Linked DNA regions of Homo sapiens. The protein of the gene in region 3 purifies or fractionates together with the protein of the main gene of each other region. This does not show direct contact. Each region holds a gene or a part of one and is shown on either strand. Other genes may lie near its edges. The genes, in order: EIF1AX, AMOTL1, RAB3IL1, PPIL4, MB21D2, ATG4C and AMOT.

What was found.
Region 1: the proteins of RAB3IL1 (region 3) and EIF1AX purify together in Homo sapiens (affinity purification with mass spectrometry, with the first as the bait; one large-scale study listed by BioGRID). This does not show direct contact.
Region 2: the proteins of RAB3IL1 (region 3) and AMOTL1 purify together in Homo sapiens (affinity purification with mass spectrometry, with the first as the bait; one large-scale study listed by BioGRID). This does not show direct contact.
Region 4: the proteins of RAB3IL1 (region 3) and PPIL4 purify together in Homo sapiens (affinity purification with mass spectrometry; 2 studies listed by BioGRID and IntAct, with this or other methods). This does not show direct contact.
Region 5: the proteins of RAB3IL1 (region 3) and MB21D2 purify together in Homo sapiens (affinity purification with mass spectrometry, with the first as the bait; one large-scale study listed by BioGRID). This does not show direct contact.
Region 6: the proteins of RAB3IL1 (region 3) and ATG4C purify together in Homo sapiens (affinity purification with mass spectrometry; 3 studies listed by BioGRID and IntAct, with this or other methods). This does not show direct contact.
Region 7: the proteins of RAB3IL1 (region 3) and AMOT purify together in Homo sapiens (affinity purification with mass spectrometry; 3 studies listed by BioGRID and IntAct, with this or other methods). This does not show direct contact.

The regions. Positions count from the first base shown.
Region 1 is NC_000023.11:20,128,339-20,131,838, forward strand, and holds part of EIF1AX (eukaryotic translation initiation factor 1A, X-chromosomal), read right to left. Parts: intron 2,270-3,500; coding exon 2,178-2,269; intron 1-2,177. UniProt on the Homo sapiens protein: Component of the 43S pre-initiation complex (43S PIC), which binds to the mRNA cap-proximal region, scans mRNA 5'-untranslated region, and locates the initiation codon. This protein enhances formation of the cap-proximal complex.
Region 2 is NC_000011.10:94,771,356-94,774,855, forward strand, and holds part of AMOTL1 (angiomotin-like protein 1), read left to right. Parts: intron 1-3,500. UniProt on the Homo sapiens protein: Inhibits the Wnt/beta-catenin signaling pathway, probably by recruiting CTNNB1 to recycling endosomes and hence preventing its translocation to the nucleus.
Region 3 is NC_000011.10:61,904,067-61,907,566, forward strand, and holds part of RAB3IL1 (guanine nucleotide exchange factor for Rab-3A), read right to left. Parts: coding exon 3,499-3,500; intron 3,405-3,498; coding exon 3,327-3,404; intron 3,037-3,326; coding exon of another isoform or gene 2,942-3,036; intron 2,619-2,941; coding exon 2,400-2,618; intron 817-2,399; coding exon 688-816; intron 593-687; coding exon 480-592; intron 1-479. UniProt on the Homo sapiens protein: Guanine nucleotide exchange factor (GEF) which may activate RAB3A, a GTPase that regulates synaptic vesicle exocytosis. Promotes the exchange of GDP to GTP, converting inactive GDP-bound Rab proteins into their active GTP-bound form.
Region 4 is NC_000006.12:149,532,544-149,536,043, forward strand, and holds part of PPIL4 (peptidyl-prolyl cis-trans isomerase-like 4), read right to left. Parts: intron 3,196-3,500; coding exon 3,053-3,195; intron 2,232-3,052; coding exon 2,135-2,231; intron 1,032-2,134; coding exon 915-1,031; intron 1-914. UniProt on the Homo sapiens protein: PPIases accelerate the folding of proteins. It catalyzes the cis-trans isomerization of proline imidic peptide bonds in oligopeptides.
Region 5 is NC_000003.12:192,907,857-192,911,356, reverse strand, and holds part of MB21D2 (nucleotidyltransferase MB21D2), read left to right. Parts: intron 1-3,500. UniProt on the Homo sapiens protein: Probable nucleotidyltransferase that catalyzes the formation of cyclic dinucleotide second messenger in response to some unknown stimulus.
Region 6 is NC_000001.11:62,815,132-62,818,631, reverse strand, and holds part of ATG4C (cysteine protease ATG4C), read right to left. Parts: intron 2,058-3,500; coding exon 1,824-2,057; intron 1-1,823. UniProt on the Homo sapiens protein: Cysteine protease that plays a key role in autophagy by mediating both proteolytic activation and delipidation of ATG8 family proteins.
Region 7 is NC_000023.11:112,820,332-112,823,831, forward strand, and holds part of AMOT (angiomotin), read right to left. Parts: intron 2,858-3,500; 5' UTR 2,796-2,857; coding exon 1,924-2,795; intron 1-1,923.

The DNA.
Region 1 (3,500 bases), on a different chromosome or scaffold from region 3:
AGGAAAAAGAATTCTTATATTCCAACAGTCTACTCCATATATAAGGGAGACTTTCACCTCCTTAGGCTATGTGAGAAACAAATCCAGTTTGAAGAAGAAATTCCTATAATTCTGGCCTGCTATAAGTAAATCGTGATGATCTCCTTTGTAATGTTACATGTTATGCAAAATATTCTTAATAAAATTTACTGTCTCCTTCCTTTAATGCTTGTAATTTGAGATTTTTGTATCTCATGGATGGGAGCAGACACAGGAAGCATGATATGATTGATCCCGTTCAGTGTGATACTGACCTAATTCTCCTGAGTCAATCTGGTTATAGTTAAAACATCTATAAACCACCTGGAGAAATGTCTCAAAGAGTAGGGTTCTCAGGTGACAGAGCCAACTTTTACAAAATGTTCAAGAGAACTCCTTTAATAATCACTCTTTACCATCCCTTTTCCAGCCAGCCAGCTGGGTCCAGTTCTGAGGAGGCGTTGGCCCAGATCCAGAAATTTTTACTGAGAAAATCTTGACCACGCCTAGATTCTCAACCCATTATCTTGGTGCATGCGGCTTCATATCCATGCATGTTCTCTGGTTAGGTTCCTTAATTTTTTTTTTTTTTTAAAGAGGCCTTCTACCCCTGCTCAGATGTCAAAATGTTTGGGTTGGCGCTTAATCCACATGTCAGCTGCAAGCTCTTATTTACCAAAGAATAGAATTGTTAATTCTATTGTCAAAATATTAGTAACAGTTTAGTCGTAAGACTCCTCTTGGCTCAGGGTCTCCAAAATTAAGAAAATAACAGAACAACATGTTTATTTCTCACTTCCTATTTTTGTGTACATGTTAAAATGTCTATAATATTAGTAATTTAACTCACAGTGTGAGTATTCTTGGTCAGGAACAACTGCTCTAGGTATTCCGAAATTCCATCTTTGCATCAAATTTAACGTTATTATGTTATTTATGTAGAGACAAAGTCTGGCTATGTTACCCAGGCTGGTCTTGAACTCCTGGGCTCAGGTGATCCTCCCCTATCAGTCTCCTGAGTAGCTGGGACTATGGGTGCATACCACCACATCTGACTTATTATTGTTTTTGGGTTGAAATACACAGGTGGTTTCTGAACTACATTTTAGTTAAAAGAGGTTTGAAAAGAAGAGCCCAAAACAGATTTAAGAGTAACACCCTAATCACTAAATAAATTTATACTGCCAAAAGATTAAGTTTGAATTTCATTCAATTACAGTAACAGCAGAAGTGCAGTAAAGCATTTACACTTATGGGCATTACTACTTTATTATTAGGAAAGACAATCCATTTTCCTCAAAATAAACATACCAACTGCAAACCAAGAGTTTGCCAACAGTACACACCCAACAGCTAAAAATACCATAATTGGCAATAGGCTTCCATTTTGACAAGGCTTTCAGTGTATGTTGTAATTCCAATGCTTCATATCAAGCTGGTTCAAACAAGATTCTTTCAACACACTAATATTTCAATTAAAAAGGCATGTTCCTTTGATAAGATCTATTTTTCAACTGTCCACTAAATTTCTTAATGGCTATCTCTTTAGAGACTCTTAATTAAACAAGTTATGATTAGAGTGGCTGGCGTTAATATTGCCAATGCAAACACTGACCTTTTCAGGAAGAGAAATTGAAGAGGGTTATAAGAATTCTCAAAATAGGGCCGGGCATGGTGGCTCACGCCTGCAACCCCAGCACTTTGGGAGGCCGAGGAGGGCAGATCACCGGAGGTCAGGAGTTCGAGACCAGCCTGGCCAACGTGGTGAAACCTCGTCTCTACTAAAAATACAAAAAATTAGCCAGGCGTGGTGGCACGCGCCTGTAGTCCCAGCTATTCAGGAGGCTGAGGCAGGAGAATCGCTTGAACCCAGGAGGCAGAGATTGCAGTGAGCTGAGATTGTACCACTGCACTCCAGCCTGGGTGACAGAACAAAACTCCATCACAAAAAAAAAAAAAAAAAAAAAAAAAAAAAGAATTCTCAAAATATAAACAGTTTGACCAGGTGTCTTCTAAATAATATTATTTAATTCAGACAATTCTCAAAATACAACCTTATTTAAGTGTCCCATGTTCTTAAAATTAATGGATGTTAGGGGAAAGTTGGTTTCTCCATGGATAATAACAAAAATTGGAAAACACAAGGTACATCTACTTACGTCATCAATATCTTCATCATCATCTCCAATGTCATCAAACTGAATTTCATCATCATCTCCAGGACCAAATGTATCAGTTTCATTGATTTTAGCTAAGGACACAGTAAGAAATACTCATAAGTCAGCACTGTAATTTACTCAAAGTTTCATCATAAGAGCATTCCTTTTATATAAGACAATAACTATAAAGAATATTTTATGAAAAAAAATTCCTGCAGTGTCACTGCTAAGTCAAGATGGGAGTATCTGTGTTACCATTTTCTTTTGTTTGCAAAGGTATTTTTAGTAAGGAAGGCCCTAATTACACTAATTCTGAAGCTATTATAACTTTCAGGTATACTTCTCAACATACAAGGAAATATGGTAACAACGTATTTCCTTAAGAATAGCTGGTTCACTAATCATCAGATAGACTCATCAATCAGAAAGATCTGGTCAAATCATGATTACCCCTAAGCAATGAAAATGAACCAGGAAGCGCTAGTCCTATTCCTATATACATTAACATTTCTTAGATCAGAAATGCTAAGTAATTTCAGCAGGACTTTCATGCTTAAGTAAAATATAACAAAATTATGTTTTTTCTTAAGATACAACAGAGCCAAAAATAATAACTGCCAAGTGAAAATGCAGGCCTACAGAACAGTATGTCAAGTACATTTCCCCTTTGATGAGGTTATAAGGGACTTATTTTTAGGTTTTCTGCGTTAAGAATTCATTACTTTTGTATTTGGAAGGGTGAAAACCAAGAAATGTTGCTTTTAAAAAATCCTATGGGATACTATTATACAACGATAAAATGGAAATATAACTTTTTAATAAAAATCAGTAATGAGGCCGGGCATGGTGGTTCACGCCTGAAATCCGAGCACTTTGGTAGGCAGAGGTGGGTGGATCATCTGAGGTCAGGAGTTTGAGACTAGCCTGACCAACATGGTGAAACCCCGTCTCTACTAAAACTACAAAATTAGCCGGGCATGGTGGTGCATGCCTGTAATCTCAGCTGCTTTGGAGGCTGAGAATCGCTTGAACCTGGGAGGCAGAGGTTGCAGTGAGCCAAGACTGCACCACTGCACTCCAGCCTGGGCAAAAGAGTGAGACTCCATTTCAAAACAAACAAACAAAATCAGTAACTGTACCTAATTACTTGCCCTTGCTTCATGGTTTTTTTTTTTTTTTTTTTTTAATTTTTTTTGAGACAAGGTCTCACTTTGTCACTCAGGCTCGAGTATAGTGGCATGATCATAGGTCACTGCATCCTTGAACTCTTGGACTCAAGCAATCCTCCCGTCTTGGCCTCCCAAGTAGCTGAGACTACAGGCA
Region 2 (3,500 bases), about 33 Mb from region 3:
TTTTCATTAATTTTGGCAGGTTCTTATGACTCAGAATTTAGTAGGTAATAAAATCCTCGAAAAGCAAGGGGTAGTGTGGAGGTCAAGTAAAGGGAGATATTTGATTACAAGGTTTGTTGGAAATAGTCTGAGGTTGTTGTGGTTTTATGTTTTGTTTTGTTTTTTTGTTTGCCTAGTGATTTTTTTAAAGTTAATTTTGTTGGCTTGGCTTTGTTTTGTCTTGAAGGAGAGGTACAATGTAAATCTTGGCCATTGTGGGTAGGGCAGTCCTCTACTTTTGCTGGAAGGAAGCCACTCCTGCTCTTGGTTTATGTGTTGGCATCAAGCTGAGTTCTACTTTAACTTGTGAGGCCCTTGGCTCTGCTCTCACGGCCAGGCCTTGTGTAACCTTAGGGTATATTCATTTTGGACACTCAGGACAGGACTCCTGGACTCCTAAAGGGGCTCACACATCAGGCATTTTCCCCCCATCTTTTAGGAGAGAGTAGGAGAGTAGCTCTAAGGTGTTGGAAATGTATCCCTGTTAAGATACTGAAGAATTAGATTTAAGTTTTCAAAAACTGTCGTTCTATGGTGTGTGTTTAAACCTGTGTTTGAGACCTCACTGGCCAATATTGCAGCTATATACCTCTATTTTTTCATTTTGTTTTTAAGTAAAATGTCTGCTGTTTACTTTTAACTTTTCGTTTTGAAATGATCATAGCTTCATAGGAAGTTGCAAAAATAGTAGAGAGGTCCTGTGTACCCTTCACCCAGTTTCCCCCATTGGTAACATCTTACATAACCATAGTACAGTAGCAGAACCAGGAAATTGACATTGGTACAGTCCACAGAGCATATTCAGATTTCACCAGTTTTACATGCACATGTAAAATTTGTATTTCTATGTGTGTACTTCTATGCATTTTTTCATGTGTAGATTCATGTAACCGCTACCACAATCAAGGTACAGACTATTTTATTACCCCAATGATCTCCCTTATGCTACACCTCTATAGTTGCACTGGCCCTCTTCTCCCCATCCTCACTCTGTTGCTAAATGCTTAGCAACCACTACTCCTGTTCACCATATCTATAATTTTATCATTTTGAGAATGTTACATAAATACAATCATGTAGTATGTGAGCTTTTGAGATTGGCTTTTCACTCAGCATAATGCCATGGGGATCCATCCAAATTTTTGCATCTCTCAATAGTTTGTTTCTTTTCATTGCTGAGTAGTATTCCATAATATGGATGTACTATGGTTTGTTTAACCATTCACCTATGGGTTTTTTCCAGTTCATGACTATTTCACATAAAGTTTTTATGAACATTTATATATAGGTGTTTGTGTGAACATAAGTTTTCATTTCTCTGGCGTAAATGCCCATGATTGTGATTGCTGGATTGTATGGTAAGTGTGTGTTTAGTTTTTTAAGAAATTGCCAAACTTTTCCAGAGTGGCTGCACCACTCCTATTAGCAATGTATGAGAGATCCAGTTTCTCTGCAACCTCACTAGCATTTGATGTTATCACTATTTTTTATTTTAGTTGTCCTAATAGGTGTTCTAGTAGGTGCTCTAATCTTACCATGGTTTTAATTTGCATTACCCTAATGGCTGATTATGTTTAATGTCTGTCTTTTTTATGTGCTTATTTGCTATCCATATATCCTCTTTGGCGAAATAACTATTCATGCCTTTTGCCCATTCCCTAACTGGATTATTTATTTTACTTTAGAGCTTTAAGAGTTCTTTATATATTCTAGATGCAAGTCCTTAGTCAGATTTGTGGCTTGCACATATATTTTCCCAAGTATGTAGCATGTCTTTTTATGTCCTTACCAAGGTCTTTTGCAGATCAAAAGTTTTTTATTTTGATAAAGTCCAGTTGATAGATTCCTTTTTTCTTTAAGGATGGTGCATTTAGTGTCACATCTAAGAACATTTTGCCTAGACCCATGTCTCAGACATTTTCTGCTGTGTTTTCTTCTAAAAGTTTTATAGTTTTACATTTTATTTTTAAGTTATAGTTCACTTTTGTCTGTCTTAAGAGTTTGTATGTCTTGCTGCTGAGCTTATAAACCATCTATTAGGTCTCGAATATGCACAGATGGACTATCAGGTGTAGTTCCCATTCTGAAGTGCTCACAGATTAGGGGTGTGGCATGTGGACATTACCATGTGTTACTACTATGATGGGGACACATGTGATGTACTGTGGGTGCTCTGAGGAGAGAGGGCTCACTTTGGTCCAGGCGGTCAGGGAGGGCTTCCCTGGGCATGCTGCCCAACCATGGTGGGAATAAAATTGGTTTGCTTTTGATCCAGTTTTTAGATCTTTATTGCCATGAATTCTTTAGAGTGTGTTACTCTGATTCTTGAGCACATGCTGATTGAGTTGGCATAAACTGAGTGGTTGAGGACCTTTTTGAACAGTACATGGCATGATAGCTTAAAAGAAGGTGAAAACACAGTACTTAAAACTCAGTAACATAAACAGTATGAATGAAGTTGAATAGATTAAGAGTTATGTATATGTTAAAATGAAAAAGGAGAGGTAGTATTTTGGATTGAGAACAGGTGTATCCTGGCCCTGCCGCCTCCTTGCTGTGTGACCTCGGAATTGTACATGCTGAAGCCTCATGAGTAAAATGGGGAAAATAATAGTTCTTCCCTCATGGAGCTGCATGAGGGCAAAGTGAAGCAATGCGCACAATGCTGGGCACGTTGAAAGCATTCAATAAATACCTGCTACCATTATTATTACTAAAACAGCAGAGAAGCAAAACACTTTATAATGTTACGTAAATTCGCATGTATCCGTCTTCTTTGAGAACCTGGAACCCCTGTTCTTACTCATGGAAGTGTTCCTTTTCACAGTTGGGAGCGCTGTGAATACTACTTAGTGAATGAGATAGAAGCTAGGATGCCCTATTCACAATCTATTACTATCTATAAAATAAACCTTTCTTTGCTTCTATAAAAGTATGATTTCTGATGAAAGAATGATTTCCTCTGTGCCCTTGAGCACAGGAGGCAGGAGGAGGTGGGTCTGCATTCAGAAGGCTAGTTCAGAGTTTATGGTGCTTGGTACTGTAGGTGCAGTAAGTCAGGGCTGATGTCACCAGGCCGTGTCTCAAATTTCATAACTGGCAGCTCTGTTTCCTTCTTGATGACCAAGTTGTTTACTTCTCAGAGGAAATTAATTGGGTCTTAGATGTACAATTCCAGGACAGTTGTTCTCAAATGTGATTGAGCATCAGAATACCCCAGAGGGTTTATTGAAACATGGATTGCTGGGCCGCACCCCTAGAGTTTCTGTTTCCTTGGTTGATTGAGGATAGGGCCTAAGACTTTGCATTTCTAACACGTTTCCAAGCAATGCTGATGCTGCTGGTACTGGAAACACATGTTAAGAATGACCATTTTAAAACATAGCCCCTTTAAATTGGGCCTGGACTGAGATGCTTACCCTTTGGAATGGAGTTTGTTCATCTATAAGTAATTGAGTTTG
Region 3 (3,500 bases):
GGCTCAAATGCTCCCTCTCCGTGATGAGCCTCCCACCAGGGCACCAGCCATCCCCAGCCAGGCTCTTGGCTGCCAAGGTGAAATCCTCCCCAATTTCTGCCCCTTGCTCCACCCTGGCTATTTTGTTCTGCTGCTCCCCTGCTCAATGCCAGGTGAGTAGCTGGAGGACAAATGCCAGGGCTACTGCGTCGTTATTTATTGGCAGGGGCACAGCCAGCAACTGATAATCATGGTTCAAGAAAAGAAGGGGAGGGCACAGAGCAGACCAGTCAGGAAGAGGCAGACCCTAGCTCCCGGCCTCTCTGGAAAGCCTGGGGGTCCACAGGAAACCTGCCAAACTGCCTCCTTGCCCTGTGGGGGCAGCAACTGTCCCTGTCCTGTCGGCGCTGCTGCATCCTGACCACCCCTCGGCACAGTAAACACACGGCTTGGCGGGGCTTTCCCACATGGGCAGGAAGGAGCTAAGACCCTCAGCTTACTTGGTGCTGCTACAGTCAACCTCGGCCACCTTCACTGTGGGCAGCGTCTGCGAAGCCACCGGCTCAATGGTGAGCGTGTTGTCCTCCACGGCGGCCCGTACCAGCACCGAGAGCTGTGGCAGACCAGGGAGGCAGGCAGGGTGGTAAGGGGCTGGGCCCTGGCGGAGGGGTGTGTCCCCCAGCTGGCCCCGCCCCTGCCATGCCTCACCTCCTGCATTGTGAAGTCCAGGCAGGGGCCCACGTCCTCTCGGTACACCCTTTCCAGGAAGGGGCAGGTCTTGTCCAGGGTGGGGGATTCCCTCCAGGCCTGGAACTCTGCAAACAGGATTGTGTCCACCTGTGGGGGAGGGCAAGCGAGGGTGGGGGCGGTCAGGGTACTGGGGCCAGCATAGAAGATGCAGGCTGAGCTGAAGGGGAGCGAGGGAGGACGTGGGGCAGGCCCAGCAAGCCAGCAGGTCGATCCCCAGCAGCCGTGCAGGGAAGCCAAGTCCAGCAGCAGCAGAGCTCCCTTCTGCCCTTTGCACCAAAGAATTTAGAACTAAAAGTTTTGTTTCCAGGCCGGTGTTAAATTTCTTGGCGCTACTGGATTTTAGAGTGGGGTGCAGGGCTTTGTCCTGAAGACCCTCAGTGCCTCCTTGAGGAGGAAAAGTCAAAGAGCAACTAGCAGGAGGCCACAGGTACCAGCAGGTACACAAGCACACACAAGCACGTGCACACAGGAGGGGACACACACAGGCTGCCCTGGGCCCACACCTCAGAGGTGACTGCTGGCCTGCTCCAGGCCACATGCAGAATGAGGGAGGCTGGGAGGGGGCAAAGTGGGAGGCCCCTCTTTGGAGCCATTTACCTGTCGGGAAAAGGAGGGAGAGGGAGTGGAGGCAGGGGCTGGGGGCTCCCCAGGTGGGAGCGGCCAGGCCGGCTCGTAGGTGAGGTGAACCGCCTTGCTGGGGACCACGCAGAGGAGCAGGGAGAGCAGCGGGGCCAGCCCGGGCTGGGCCGGATGGACAGACAGACAGACAGACAGACAGGTAGACAGGTGCACAGAGACAGAACAGGAGGAAGGGGAGAAGTTAATGTACATTCAGAAGCTCAGAGCTCAGGAGGTGGATGAGGGCCTGCTCGTCTTCCCTGGAGGCCCTGGAGACAGAGGTGGAAGCCAGGATGGAGTCGAGTGGGCTGGCGCCAGGGACCCAGGAAGCTGAAGGCACCACAGCCCTCTGAGGCACTACCTGGGTGCAGCCTTGAACTCAGCTCTTGATGTCCCTGTCTCTGGTTCCTCCAGCAGCCCCGGGAGGCCCCATTTATCAGGTGAGAAAGCTGAGGTGCTGACAGGTGGCCTCATTTGCCTACAGACCCATGACCATGAGTGTCAGCCCAGCCTGGGCCCAGCAACTGGTGTGGCCAGCTGAGGTGGGACGGAGACACCTCTCCAAAGGCCACGCTTGTCTCAGCCCCACAGTCAGAGGGTGCCAGAAACCCCTTGAGCACAGGGCTGTCACCAGGTGGTCCTGGGGCTCGAGGCTGTGGCCACACGGGGTCCAGGCAGCCTCTCCCCTGAGGCCCAGTGGCTGCTGCTTGGCCTCTTAAGGCCAAGGAAGTGTGTGTCTCAGTGGAGGCCCCAGATCCTCAGGGCCAAAGCCAGCCTCAGGTGCAGAGACCACTACCTACTGCTTGGAGTCAGTGGGGCAGGGAGGGGGCCTCAGGTCCCCAGATGGTATACCCTGGAGGCTGCAGGCCAAGTGCCTCAGATCACAGGAGGTTGGAGAGAAAGGACCTGCCCAGCCCTCACATCCCAGAGAGGCGCAGGACAGGCTCCAGGTCACACAGCATGGGGCAGGCTGGTCCTCACTGGGCTCGGACCCTGCCTACCGCAGGCACTGCCACCCTTCCCCGTGCCCAGAGCCCGCTTCCCACCCTCACCTCCTTGCCCTCTCTGTCTGGGGTGAGGGTGTGTCCCGCAGCGGGACACACGGCGGGGCAGAGGGTGCTGCTGGTGCTCTTGTGGCGAGAGTGGCCCTTTCGGGGCCCGGCCTTGGTGGGGCTCAGCAGCTGGGGGTGAAGCTCGCGGTTGGGAGAGGCTGGTGTGGACGTGATGACCAGCGTCTTCAAGGCTGTCACCTCTGCCTGCAGCATGTCGATCTGCATGGGATGGGATGGCTGTCAACCCTCACCCAGACTGGATGCCATCCTGGCTGCCACCGCCTATCAGCCTAACTCAGGACAATGCACCCCTGCAGTGACAGGCACTTAGTCCCACCCGACGCCCTCAGAACAGCCTTCGAGGCAGAGACCCAGACACTCGTTTTACACATAGGGAAACTGAGGCTCACAGAGGCGACATGGCCTGCCCAAGGTCACTCTGTGAGCAGGATTCTGTTAGGAACAAGTGTCTGGGAGCTGGCTGGGCCTCCCATGAGAGTTCTGGGACCGCCCCCAGGAGCCAGGAAAGGCCCAGGCCTCACATTTTGCAGATGGGCAACCAGGCTTGGAGAGAGGAAGCGACTTGCCCAGGCTCAGACAGCCATACTGAGTGAGGTTTCTGCTTTGTAAAGTGGGGCTGGGAGGAGAGGGAAGAAGGTACAATAATCACAGGGTCCTCCCAGCCCCAGCACTATCCCAGAAAAGGCTCTGCCATGCAGCAGAATCACTGATGGAGCCCCGGGACACTGGGCCCTGTGATCTCAGACCCCCACCCTTCCCTTCCCTCCCTGGGCCTAGGTTCACCCATTCCTGCTGGCCCCACCGGGCCAGGTGAGCGTCCACTCGGGCAGCAAAGCTCAGTGCTCGCTGAGCCGGGAGGCAGGGGGGGTGCCTGGGCTGGCCTGGGCAGGCGGGGATGGGCCTCACCTTGCCCCGAGCCTCCTTCAGCTGCTTTTCTGATGCCGCCTGCTTCATGTTGGCTTCTCGAACCATCTTGTGAGCTTCCTAGGAAGAAGGCAGTCCCTGCGTGAGTGGTGAGGAGCCAACGGACGCCCAGATGACCCATTCCCCAAGTTGTTCCCGCGCCCAGCCGGTGTACCT
Region 4 (3,500 bases), on a different chromosome or scaffold from region 3:
CAGTAAAGCTTTCTTGAACTATACAGCCTTTACTATTTGTTCATTCAGACAGTTGATGGTAATATAAACTTAAGCCTGGCCAACATAGGGAGATCCTGTCTCTACAAAAAAAATTTTAAAATTAGCAGGGCATTGTGGTGTGTGACTGTGGTCTCAGCAACTCAGGAGGCTGAGGCAAGGGCATTGCTTAAGCTGAGGAGTTGGAAGCTGCAGCAAGCTATGATCATACACCACTGTACTCCAGCCTGAACAACAGAGTGAGACCCTGTCTCTATAAAATAATAAATAAATAAACTTTAAAACAGACTACAAATCTGAAAGTTCTATTATATAAAATAGTAACTTTATTATCCATTCATTCCAATATTTATTATCTATGATATGACAGGTATGCCTATTCTACAAAAATAAGAAATGGAAAATAATACCAAGTAGGTCAATTAATCATCTACTGAATTATTATTCCCCAAATGACTTCAGGTTGTTAGTAATACAGAGAAGCAGTATATTTTAGAGTGCTCAGTTTCCACCCATTATTTTGCCCTACAACTACCATTCTGTTTAATCTTAACACTTGAGTGGTACAGTGAAGAACTATTCTTTAATATACATAAAATTCAGCCTGCTAAACACTCTTTAAGAATGAGATGAATATTAAACAACTGAAATTCAATTAATAAGTTAGAGATCCACTTCCCACTGTTTAAAAAGGCACTTAGCACTATATTGACAGTAGAGTCAAATTTATTTTCACAGTAGAGCCAATTTATTACTATGCCATACCAAATTTAAATCAGAAAAAAATCATAACTCAATTTTTAACATTTTAAGACTACTGAAGAGCCAGAAATAAACACTCAGTAAGTATTATTAGATATATTACAGAACAATTTGAACAAAGATAATTATCTTACCATCTCCAAAAGTATAGCCTGAGTTTTAGCCTCTTTTTCTGCCTTTATTTCTTCTACTTCCTCAGCTGATCTTCCTTTGAAATCATCAATTTCTTCATCTGCTCCTATTCGACCACTCTGTTAAGACAGAAGTTACTCATGTATATATTTAAAGAATAAAAAAATCTGAGAAACATAGAAGACATACTTTATTCTTAGTTATATCAAACATGCTAAAACAGTAACTGATCAAGGTTGCAGTGAGCTACAATCACACCACTGCACTCCAGCTGGGTGACACAGTGAGATCTTGTCTCTAAAAAAAAATTTTTAATAATTAATTGGACAGCAACTGAGACAAACTTATAAACCTCCAAGAATTGATTTATATTAATTCTAAAATATTAGCCAAAGTGGGCTTCTGTTAAAATCAAAATAGGCCAGGCATGGTGGCTCGTGCCTGTAATCCCAGCACTTTGGGAGAACACGCAGGTGGATCACTTGAGGTCAGGAGTTCGAGACCAGCCTGGCCAACACAGTGAAACCCTGTCTCTACTAAAAATACAAAAATTAGCTGGGCGTGGTGGCATGCACCTACAATCCCAGCAACTCAAGAGGCTGAGGCACGAGAATTGCTTGAATGAGGAAGGCAGAGGCCACAATGAGCCGAGATCCCACCACGCACTCCAGCCTAGGCAACAAAGTGAGACTCCATCTCAAAAAAATAAATAAATATTTATATGGACACTATTTATTATCCAATTCTAACTGCTGAATGAAGAGAAATGATCTGACAATTAAGCACCAATCCCAACCATAAAGACAAATTCAGCTTTCAGGAAGCCACATAAACCTTAAAATATGTGGGGGAACAGTCTGCGCTGTTTCACAGAAATTTCTGGGTTCTAGCCTGGCTCCAGAGTGTCCCCAGTTGAAAAGTTACCTCACAAGATAACAGTTTAATTTGATGACAAGAAAAACACTTTCCCAAGGTGTTCATGTAAGCTTCTAGAGCTGAGGTTGTCTCAGTAGAAAAGAAACTGAAGAAAGGAAATTAGAGAAATGAGAAGACAGCTAGAAAAATGAGTACCTCTGTGGAAAAGAAAAAGAACTCCAAACTTGTTGAATATAATTAAGCAAGATAATAATTCGGAAAAAATTAACTTTAACAGATGAAAAAGATAAATCCATACAAATCATTAATATGAATGTACATTTAATCATAAGAGGGCTTTACTTACATCTAATTGTTCCCTTGTAGGTTCTGGTGATCGATCAGGGATTAATAAATCAGGAGGGTCATCAAATGGATCATCTAAAATCACCGTATGATTTATCCTTACAAAATAAATCCAAATCAAATGTTATACATTGAAGTTATTTCAGAATCCTATTTTATTTTAATAGATTACAAAAAATTACTTGATTATCTCTAAGGCCAAAAAAAACCCATATTGCATATGGATATTACTAACCTAGATATACTTTCACAATGAGTGTTACTGTTTTGCATTGAGTGATACCATATTTATCACCCTGCATTACTTTAAGATGTAAACTAATATAACTGTCTAAATCTTAGTACTTTTGCCCTACTTCTCAATTAAAAAACTAAATTAAAGCATTAACAATTCCTCCAGCTGGGTGCAGTGGCTCATTCCTGTAATCCCAACACTTCAGGAGGCTGAGGTGGGTGGATCATGAGGTCAGGAGATCGTGACCATCCTGGCTAACATGGTGAAACCCCGTCTCTACTAAAAATACAAAAAATTAGCCAGGTGTGGTGGCGGGCGCCTGTAGTCCTAGCTACTTGGGAGGCTAAGGCAGGAGAATGGTGTGAACCCGGGAGACAGAGCTTGCAGTGAGCCAAGATCGCGCCACTGCACTCCAGCCTGGGCAACAGCATGAGACTCCGTCTCAAAAAATAAATAAATAAATAATTCCTCCAAACATAATTATAAATAATTAGTACAAGTATAAAAATACAAAAAGTCCTTTTTATTATAAAGATTCTTACAGTCTTATATTAATTCACCTTTTGGGATTAGAATTATCCAGAAACCAGTCCTATGCATACCGTTCCTATCCATACCACTACGTGTTAAACATCTCAATATTAAAACATTCTAGTACATTCAGATAGCAAATTGTAACCATACCTGATATCCTGATATGGTACAAAGTCCTTGTCAACAAAGGTCTCATTAATTTTCTTAATTATGTCCATGCCTTCTGTCACCTCACCAAACACCGTATGGACACCATCAAGATAATCTAGATTTTCTCCTGTGGTGATAAGAAACTATAAAGAAGGACACATAATAAATACCATAAAAATAATACATAACTCAAACTGAAATCAGTTACAGACTGACAAAAAAATACATGAAAGTTAAGAGTCCACATTTACTGCACCAATTCTTAGACACTTGTTACCAAAACTAAGTAAAAAGTACAAAGCTTATACTGGCATACCTCATTTTATTGCACTTTGCAGATACTGCATTTTTTACAATTAAGGATTTCTGGCAACCGTGTATTGAGTAAGTCTATTGGTGCCATTTTCCCAACAGCATAGGCTCACTTCATGTTTCTGGCTCACATTTT
Region 5 (3,500 bases), on a different chromosome or scaffold from region 3:
AGAGACAAAAAGGCATAGTGAGTGAGACAAGGGTGTTTACTATGTCACAGGTTTTAATAGGACTTTACTGTATCATTTAATCATCACCATTACACTTTGAGGTTAAAAAAAAAAAACTGTGGTGAACCCTAGAATTAGAAAAATATAGGAATTCATCCAAGTTTACCAGCAAGTGAGTGGCATAGGTGGGACTTAACCTGGGTCAGGATGAATACAAAACCCTGGCTTTTAACAAGGACAATATTCTGCACTCAGGACCAAGAGACCCAGATTTTACCTCTGAATCTCCAGTTATTAACATTTGCTGTGTGACGTTGGGCAAGTCACTCAGACTTTAAGCCTCAGTTTCTAAATATATAAGTTGGGCTTAATCATTATATGTACTTCATGTGTTCAGGTGCATTCAATTCTGAATCTGAAAGTTTTTATATAGTAAGAGAAAAGGGAATTTCTGAGTTCTTGTACCAGCTCTGTTTTGTACTATGTGGTATGTGTTTTACCCTAAGTCTCCTAACCTATGTTGGGCCTAATTCTGCCCGTTTTCCAATGATAGAAAATGCAAAGGAAAAAGTAAAATCACTCCTAAACTTGAATCACCATTAATATTTTGATGCACATTTCTTCTAAACATCTGTGTTATACATATGCTTATACCCAGACATATGTGTACATTTACATAACAGGGATGGTATGGGATCCATGCTCTTTTATTAGGAGTAAATTTATCAATATGCTGTCCTCTACATTTTAAAGAGGAGCTATAAGTTGAAACTTGTAGAATGATGTTTTCCTAGCTTCTTTCATTCATCTCTTTTTATTCCAAAGAAGATGCATTTCTAGAACTTAGAGCACATTCTGTTATTTATGTATATATGTATGAATGACAGGTCTCACTCTGTTGCCCAGGCTGGAGTGCAATGATGCCATCACGGCTCACTGTAGCCTTGACCTCTTGGGCTCAAGCGATCCTCCTACCTCAGCATCCCAAGTACCTGGGACCACAGGAGAGCACAGCCATGCCTAGTTAATTTTTAAATTTTTTTTTTTTTTTTTTTTTTGTAGAGATGGTGGTCTTGTTGCCCAGGCTGGTCTTGAACTCTTGGGCTCAAGTGATTCTCCCACCTTGGCCTCCCAAAGTGTTGGGATTACAGGCATGAGCTACCACGCCCCACCTCTATTCTATTATTTAATAATTGGGAGTAATGAATTCTCACATTGGTGACCTCCGAGGATTTTACCTACCTTATTTGCCATCTTCTGAGGATTTTACCTACCTTTCCATGCCGCCTCCTGTCTCTGCATGTTCTACATTGTCATGTAACATACACCCCAATTTCTCACTTTCTTTCTTTGCTTAGGCTCTTAGGCTCTTTTCTCTCTCTCTCTCTCTTTCTTTTTTTTTTTTTTTTTTTTTTTTTTTGAGACAGAGTCTTGCTCTGTCACTCAGGCTGGAGAGCAGTGGCCGATCTCAATCTTGGCTCACTGCAACCTCCGCTTCCCGGGTTCCAGTGATTCTCCTGCCTCAGCCTCTGGAGTAGCTGGGATTACAGGTGCGTGCCACCATGCCTAGCTAATTTTTTGTATTTTTAGTAGAGATGGGGTTTCGCCATGTTGGCCAGGCTGGTCTTGAACTCCTGACCTCGAGTGATGCACCCACCTCGGCCTTCCAAAGTGCTGGGATTACAGGCGTGAGCCACCGTGTCTGGCCGAGGCTCTTCATCAGAGTTCCCTAACCTGGGTCCATGGAAACAGCATGGAACCTGTGAACTTGAGTGGGGAAAAAAGGACATCTTTATTTGTATTAACCTCTAACTTAAATATAGCATTTTCTTTCATTATAAATATAGATGGGAAACCATAGTGTTATTAGTGGTTCGTATGTTTTTGTTGCCAATAGAAATCCCAGGCATTTTTATTTCACATTACAGTTGTTGCAGATATCTCAAAAAATGTTTACTGCTGCTTTGAAATTATGGTGGATATTAGACTTGCTGCTAGATTTTATTATTTAAGGCACTAATAATCACATAGGGTACTCTATCACAAATTTACTTTAAAAAGGCATTTATTATTATTTTTTTATTTTTTATTTTTTTTTTTTGAGACAGAGTCTCGCTCTGTCACCCAGGCTGGAGTGCAGTGGTGCGATCTCGGCTCACTGCAAGCTCCGCCTCCCGGGTTCACACCATTCTCCTGCCTCAGCCTCCCGAGTAGCTGGGACTACAGGCGCCCGCCACCATGCTTGGCTAATTTTTTTGTATTTTTAGTAGAGACTGGGTTTCACTGTGTTGGCCAGGATGGTCTCGATCTCCCGACCTCGTGATCTGCCTGCCTTGGCCTCCCAAAGTGCTGGGATTACAGGCGTGAGCCACCGTGCCCGGCCGCATTTTGTATTTTAATACTGATTTTCTTGGAAATCCTGTGTGATGTTATCATATTCACTTAAATATGCTATTCTCTGCAGGGATCTATAGGCTTCTACAGTCTGTCGAGAGGATCCATGTCACAGAAACAATTAAATGTCCCAGGTTCTACAGATGACCTTCTGACACCTTATGTCCGCTTTATTTTTTTCTCCCAGCTCAAATGCCACTTGACTCATGAAGCCTTCCTATATGTCTTTGAGAAGAAGAAAATTTGGCCCGGCGTGGTGGCTCATGCCTGTAATCCCAGCACTTTGGGAGGCCGAGGAGGGCGGATCACGAGGTCAGGAGATCGAGACCATCCTGGCCAACACGGTGAAACCTCGTCTCTACTAAAAAAAAAATACGAAACATTAGCTGGGCGTGGTGGTGGGCGTCTGTCATCCCAGCTGCTGTAGTCTCAGCTACTTGGGAGGCTGAGGCAGGAGAATGGCGTGAACCCAGGAGGCGGAGCTTGCAGTGAGCCTAGATCGCGTCACTGTACTCCAGCCTGGGCGACAGAGGGAGACTCTGTCTCAAAAAAAAAAAAAAAAAGAAGAAAATTTACCTTTCCTGTGTTTCCTCCTAATACCTGGTCCCTTTTGTGGCCCTTAGCCTGTTCTTTCCCATGCTTTAAAGAATACCTGGCTTATTTATCTTTGCAGCACCCAGGGGGTCATGCACATAGTAGGTGCTCACTAAGTGTGATGTGACTTGAGTCACTCTTTAAAAGAGCTCTTCCCAGTGAAGCTTTTTATTGCAGTCTCTGAGAAATTAGCACTTTCTAACCTTGTCTCTTTATGATTTTTAAAAATCCATTGAGTTATACTTTATCATTTTCTGGAGTCCAGAAAATTTTGATCTTATCTCCTTATGTGGCAGAGGGATGTAGGGCAAGTTTTTCTACATTCCTTAAGACCTATCCTAGGGCAATATAAGAAATGTCCATAGTGATTGCTGTAGCTTGTTGACTGGGAACAGCAAACTGCAACTCATGACTCATAGGGATGTTCCCTTCCTTGTGGACCCCGGTGTTTCTTCACAGGCATGTGAGGGTACTTCCGGACCTCTGGCATGCCCATACTCAGGGCTTTTCAG
Region 6 (3,500 bases), on a different chromosome or scaffold from region 3:
CCAAATATCAATGATGTTTCTACCTTAATGGTATTATTCTCTGTACTTTTCTGTAGTTTCCAAAATTTCATATAATCAAGAAAAAAATTACAAAAATACAAGACAAAAGAAAGAAAAAATAGTAACCTTGGGTAAAAATGGACAATCCCAGATGTTCTTTTTTCTCTTCTTTGACAGTGCTGAGATAAAGACTTTTGTATTTCATTATCAGACTGCTTATCAAACATCCAGTCTTGACTACCCAAAGGCACAATAAACATATTTACTAACATTTATGATACTCATAAGAAGATATCTTCAGAAAGTGGATGTTTTGATTATATGTTAAAATAGAAGTCTGACCATGGAAGTTTTAAATTTTTTTCAAAATATTTTCCTGTACGTTTCTTCAGAATAACTTAATCATTATTAACAGAGTAATAACAATTCTCTAATAGTTAATAAATGAAATCATAAAAGATCAAAGACCTTGAAAAATCAAATATATCCATTATGTCACTGTTTTGAATAACAAGACAATCCCCAAACATGCATGTAATTTTAAGTTAACAAAATAAGTCATAGATTCAGAGATCTAGTGAGGACTGAAAAATATTCCAATCCTTGCCCATGACTGCACAAGACTATAAATAAATCATCCCAGAAAACCAGTTTAAAAATTATTTTCCTTACATTTTCAACACCATTCTTCAATAAACATTCTCTCTAAATAATCTCATCAATAATCTCTACAAAAAAGTTACTAAATATATGCCATGCATTGTAGGGATACTGTCTTAACACTTATAAAAATCTGACAATATTTAATAATCAAATATGATATCTTAAAATTGTAAACTAAAATATTCTTACAAATGTACACATTATTAAAAATGGACTAACACAAAGGTGGCACATTAGGAAAAACATATATATGTAAGTTAAGTATCAATGACATTTTTTAGGGTCTAAAACTGCATGATTACCTTATTAGGAATATGTCTAGTGCCAGGCACAGTGGCTCACACCTGTAATCCCAATATTTTGGCAGGACAAGGTGGGAGCATCACTTGAGCCTAGGAGTTCAAGACTAGCCTGGGCAACATAGTGAGACCACATCTCTACAAAAAAATTTAAAAATTAGCTAACCATGGTGGCACGCACCTGTGGTCCCAGCTACTCAGGAAGCTGAGGCAGGAGAATAGCTTGAGCACAGGAGTTCGAAGTTGCAATGAGCTATGATTACATCACTGCACTCTAGCCTGAGCAACAGAGTGAGACCCTATTGCTAAAAAAAGTTTTTAATTTGAAAGAGTATGTCTAATTGATTTAATATAATTGAGTATAATCACACTAATAAAGATAAAAATACTTTTAAACCATTATTGACATGTAGGGAGAAAATAAAGAAACCAGAGTAAAGTCTCTTAAAATTTTAAAAATATTACATATGTCCTCAAAATCACTGTTACTAACCTGCCCAGGACTTAACTAAACTGGAGATAATCCAGAGTTCAACCAAAAGGAAAGAAACAGTAAGAACAATAAAATCCAAAGGGTACTAAAAATTGAACTAACTTAACTCATAATGGTGACCAAGAATAACAGGTATATTTAACCTGCATTTTTGAAAAGGGAATCAGGGAAGTTTACATATAAGTCATATCTGACCCAGTTCAAAAAAAATGCAATACACCAAATTAGTTACAACTCCTTAGAAAATCTCACAGTCAAGAAATTAACCTCAGGGAATTTCATGCAGTTTGTAAGCTGGAATTCAAATGGAAAAATATCGACGACAAAAAAACAAAACAAAACAAAACAAAAACAGAAATTTGATTTACCTCTACCAAGAAAGTGTAGTATGAGTCCTTGAGCCAAGAGCATCTGGCCAGTTCTCAATGTGCAGCCCCACCCACAGTCTGTTGTCAAAGCTGAGCCTTCTATTTGAGGGAATTCTTCCCTGTAGGTCAGCCATATTCTAGAAATGAAATCTTTACGAAATTCTTCTACATTTCCTGCAATTACGTGATCCTCTATTGTACATCCCGACTCTGCAGGTAACGTTTTATCTTCATCTAAAAAATAAACATACGGTCTAAAGATAACCAGAGAAATGTCTATAATGGTAACAAACATTATCATTACTGTCTTAAGATGTGAAGTATGTCACAATCTTTCCAATCCTTTTTTTCTAATTTTATCTTTTAAAATAAAGATATGAAAATCAAGTTAGATTTTCCTGACTGCCTATGAAAATCAAGTTAGAATGAATGCTGAAATGTTTTACATACTGTAGAGTTAACTAATATAAGGTATTATCAACAATACTCTTGTTATTAATAATAATATCCTATATTCTATACATAATTAACTCTTTGAAGAGGGGACACAGACAAGGACGATATTAGATTTCTCACTGGAAACAAAAGAAGAAGATAGTGCAGCAACATCTTCAAAGTAGTGAAGAAAAAAAATCATTAACTCAGAATCCTATATGCAGCAAAAACACCTTTCAAAAATAAAGGCAAAATAAAGACGTTTTCAGATACACAAAAGCTGGAAGAAGACATCACTAGCCAACCTGCATTAAAAGAAACCTTAGCCAGGCATGGTGGCTCACATCTATAATCCCCAGCACTTTGGGAGGCTAAAACAGGAAGATTCTGGCTGGGCGCGGTGGCTCACGCCTGTAATCTCAGCACTTTGGGAGGCTGAGCCAGATGGATCACTTGAGGTCAGGAGTTCAAGACCAGCCTGGACAACATGGTGAAACCCCATCTCTACTAAAAATACAAAAATTAACCAGGCATGGTGGCAGGCACCTGTAGTCCCAGCTACTCGAGAGGCTGAGGCAAGGGAATCGTTTGAACTCAGGAGGCAGAGGTTGCAGTGAGCCAAGATCGTGCCACTGCACTACAGCCTGGGCAACATAGTGAGATCCTCATTTCTAAAAATAAATAAAAATTAACCAGGTGCGGTGCAGATACTTGCGAGGCTGAAGTGTGAGGATGAGGATCACTGGAGCCAGGAGGTTGAGGCTGCATTGAGCCATGATTAAACCACTGGTCCAGATGGAAATACAGATTCACACAAAGGAATGAAGAACACCAAACATGATACCTTCTTTGAAGGATATTTGACTATTTAAACCAAAATAATAGTAATTTACTATGGGGTGGATAACATATTAAGTAAGATGTGTGGGGTGTATAACATATAAATAAGTAAAATGTATGACAACAATATCATAAAGACCAAGAGGGAGAAGGTGAAGTATACTGTAAGGCTCTTGGTATATCACTTGAAGGCAGACTGTGATAAGTCAGAGATGTATACTATAAACCTTAAACCACTAAAATAACAATAAAAAGTTATAGCTAATAAGACAACAAAAGAGATAAAAGAGAATGATAAAAATACTCAATCCAAAAGCAGGTAGAAAGGGAGGAAAAGAAAACAAAAAAAAAAGATTTAACAAATAGAAAGCAAATAATGACATGATACATTTAAACCTAGCT
Region 7 (3,500 bases), on a different chromosome or scaffold from region 3:
GGAGGATAAAAAATATGTATCTTCCTGTAAAATACATGCAGCTAAATTTCTCCGGTGGTTTAATCAGGATGGGAAGAAAAGGAAAAAAAAAGAAAACCTCTTTGGGCTCCTCATTATTTATTTAGGCAGATCAAAGGGCAGATAATTTTCCATCTAGCTTCAAACACTGTGGGAGTCATTTCAGATCACAAACAATACTGGTGAATGAGTTCTGAAAATAGCTTTCCTGGGAAGGCGGGCTGTGTGCTGAGTGGGGCTGTGGCTTCTGCTCCACACCCCAGCCAACACACTCCCCTCCCACAAGGCAACAGACATCAGCCCATCAACAGACTCTTCCATACTGATGGGAAAAGCAAAATAAAAACCCCCAGCTTCATTGATATTTTGCTGGCTTGAATGGGTTTCCACTAAGTGAGGCAGTCTTGAACAGACCAACCCCTCCCTGGGTCTTCTGTTTCATTGGTCAGATGGGAATCTGGTTCTTGATCTCTTTTAAACCTGAGTAGCCTTGTTGGTTACCCCATTTCCTGTTCCAAGACACTGATCAGAACATAGGCTCCTGCCCTTTGAAAGCTGCACAGAGGAGGTTGAAAAGGGTTAGGAAATCAACCTGGGTTAAGAGGGAAAAAAAAAAAAAAATCCTAAACTGGCAAAGTTAGAGGTGGAGTCCAAAGTGAATTGCCTCTGGCTACAAAAACAGGACCTGCAGGGGAAAAAAAAGAAATACCAGGAAATGCTAGGTGCCTTCTCTCACTTTCACCCTACTCCACCCCATGACTGCCTTCTCTCCTGAGTCACTCAATGAACTTCAAGCCAGAAGGTTTTTTCCAAAATGAGCAAGTAGGGTACAGGAGACAAAGAGGTAGACATCAAAGGACATCACAGACCTAGTCTGTGAGCCGCATATAAATGAAGGCCAGCCTAGGACCAAGCACTTCAAACCTGATGGTCACCCATCATTACTCATGGCCATGAGGCAGGATACCACACTTAAATGCCACCATCGGTCCCCATGGTTTAAACCTTTTCTCCTGCCCTATATGTGGAAATACTACTGATCAGAGACATGGCCCAAATACTAACAACAGGAACAATGAACAGAATCATAGAATCATAAGGTCTAGTGAATATAGCAGTGGGACAATGGACCTCTGAATAATTAAGAAGTATATATAGGAACAACTAAATATATAAGACAGAAATGGTAATATTTTTCCTTCTGTATTTTAGCATCTGACCAAAATTTCTATATGATGTGATGGGAATTTAACTCAGAGGTTTAAAAATGTGACAGGCAACTAATAAATTCTCTACAAAAAAAAGATACAACAGTCCAGATTTCATAAACTGCAAGCATAAGGCAAGTAACATTCTGAACCTACATACATACATAGCTCCCCCACCATAACATCTGGGTGTTTGTTTAGTCCAAAAGAATAATGGTAATTCTATGGAAAAATGGTAACTGACAAGAAATACACAGATTTGTTTGCAAAAATAAATGATGAAAGCTTCATGGAGGGGAATATGTGCAAGTGATAGGATGTTCCAGACTAATTAAAGTGCAAGGTAATTTGCTTCTACCTCTCAAGGAGGGCTTATGAGAAACACAGACCCCTTCAACATCCTAGGAGAGAGGACAGCAAATAGCTGCTGAAAACAAGACTTTTGCTCCTGTTCGTCCACTAGGCAGTTGAGGCCATGCTCAACCTACAAAGCTAAGGGATTGTTAATACAGTGCTAATTATGGCTAAAGAGGATACAAATTCGGGTTGGCAGGCAATTCACGAAGCCAGAGGCCTGTCATGCATTGCAGAGTTTGTTATATCAAACACCTGCCCGTTCCTTCCCTAAGATTCCCAACACACAGCAGAAGCTGGTTGGGGATGAGGTCAGGAAATGACAGAAACAGAACTCTCTTACCTGGCTGCTCCATACTCAGGGGGATGCTGATACCTCATCAGTTGCCCCTCTGTTCTCCCTGGCTGGTTCAGGCGATGCTCACTATAGAAGTGCCCTGGCTCTTGGGGCTTGCACACTACAGATTGGGGTGGCATGCCCTTGAAGGGATATTCTGGTGGGGGGCCTCGGTGTTCCATGCCCTTCAGGCTATGCTGGTTAGGAAGTGGCCCTTGGGCCTTGTAGAATTCACTGGAACTTGTGGGATTCTTGTAGAGGTCATTGGGTTGTGGTGGGGAGAGGGGAGCACTGGTAACAGGTGGATGGGCCTTAACTCCACTGGTGGCCAGTGACATCTGCATTAGTCGTTCACTCAAGGAACGGACATGCCCTTGCTTAAGGTCTCTGAGTCCCTCATCTTGGTGCATCTTTCCAGGATTGAGCCGCTGAACTGATGGGCGTCCCTCAGTCCTCATCTTCTGGTTGGTGACTCCAGTGACATAGAAGGCAGCTCCAACACTGGCATGCTGTTGGCCCCGAAAGTACTGGGACTGGACCTTGGCTTCTTCATAGGTCGGGAGTTCTTCATTATTTTGCATTCGAGGAGACAGCTGCTTCTCCATGATGAGGTTTTCTGACTGGATTTCCTGCCCCTGGGGTTCTTGTCGAGCAGCATGAGCCACAAGCTGTTGGTGGTGGTCTTGGGGACTCAACACATCACTCTGAGGGCCCGGGTTCCCACTGCCACTGGGGAAAGGAGGGCCATTCCCTGTGGCTTGCTGGTGTATGGCAAGCAGGCTGCGATTCTCACTAGGATTGCCATAGCGAAGCTGCTCTTGTAGCAAACGCTGCAATACCGTGGTCCCTCCACTTGGCTGTTCTTCAGAATTTCTCATCTCTATTGCTGGTGGTGCCTTGTGAAGAGAGAGAGAAATTGGGCACCTGGGCTGCCCTTGACCTGGGAAGGGGAAACAGGAAGCTTAACACCCAGTTGATGGATAAATCAGTCCTCTAAAGGGAAAGAAAATGGATATTGGAGGGTGAGGATTCGATTGCAGAAACAAAGTAGAGAATTGACTCTAAAATTAATAGATTGTTGGGGATTCCAGGCCCTAGCACTGATATGATGAAGAACATGGAGGCATAAGAGCTCTAGGTTTTCTCTTTCACTTTTAGCATGAGTTAAATATTCAATCTGGACTTAACTCCTAAGAATGCTTGAGAAACCTGGAACAGTCAACTAGGGTAATCAAAGGGGGTAACTTTTCAAGGTCCATATTCACAGGCTTCATCTCTCTGTATTCTATTTAAAGCAAAAACCCAAATCTTATGGCTGTGGAGGTGGGGGCAGGACAGTGGGGAAAGTTACCCCATAACAGGATTTGTAAAGCAGCTCAGCATATGAAGGCAGCTACAAAATGCAAAATAAAGACTCAAATAAATAAAAGGTGAAGAGAGCTTGGCTTGCACCAGACAGTAATGATCCCTGCCTCGATGCAAATCTTTTTCTCTGATCTCATAAGGCTCTGAAACATCTTTTTAAAAAATCATTTTCATAGTCTCCATTTTGGATGCTCCTTGGCTTAATAAGAGAAGGACTT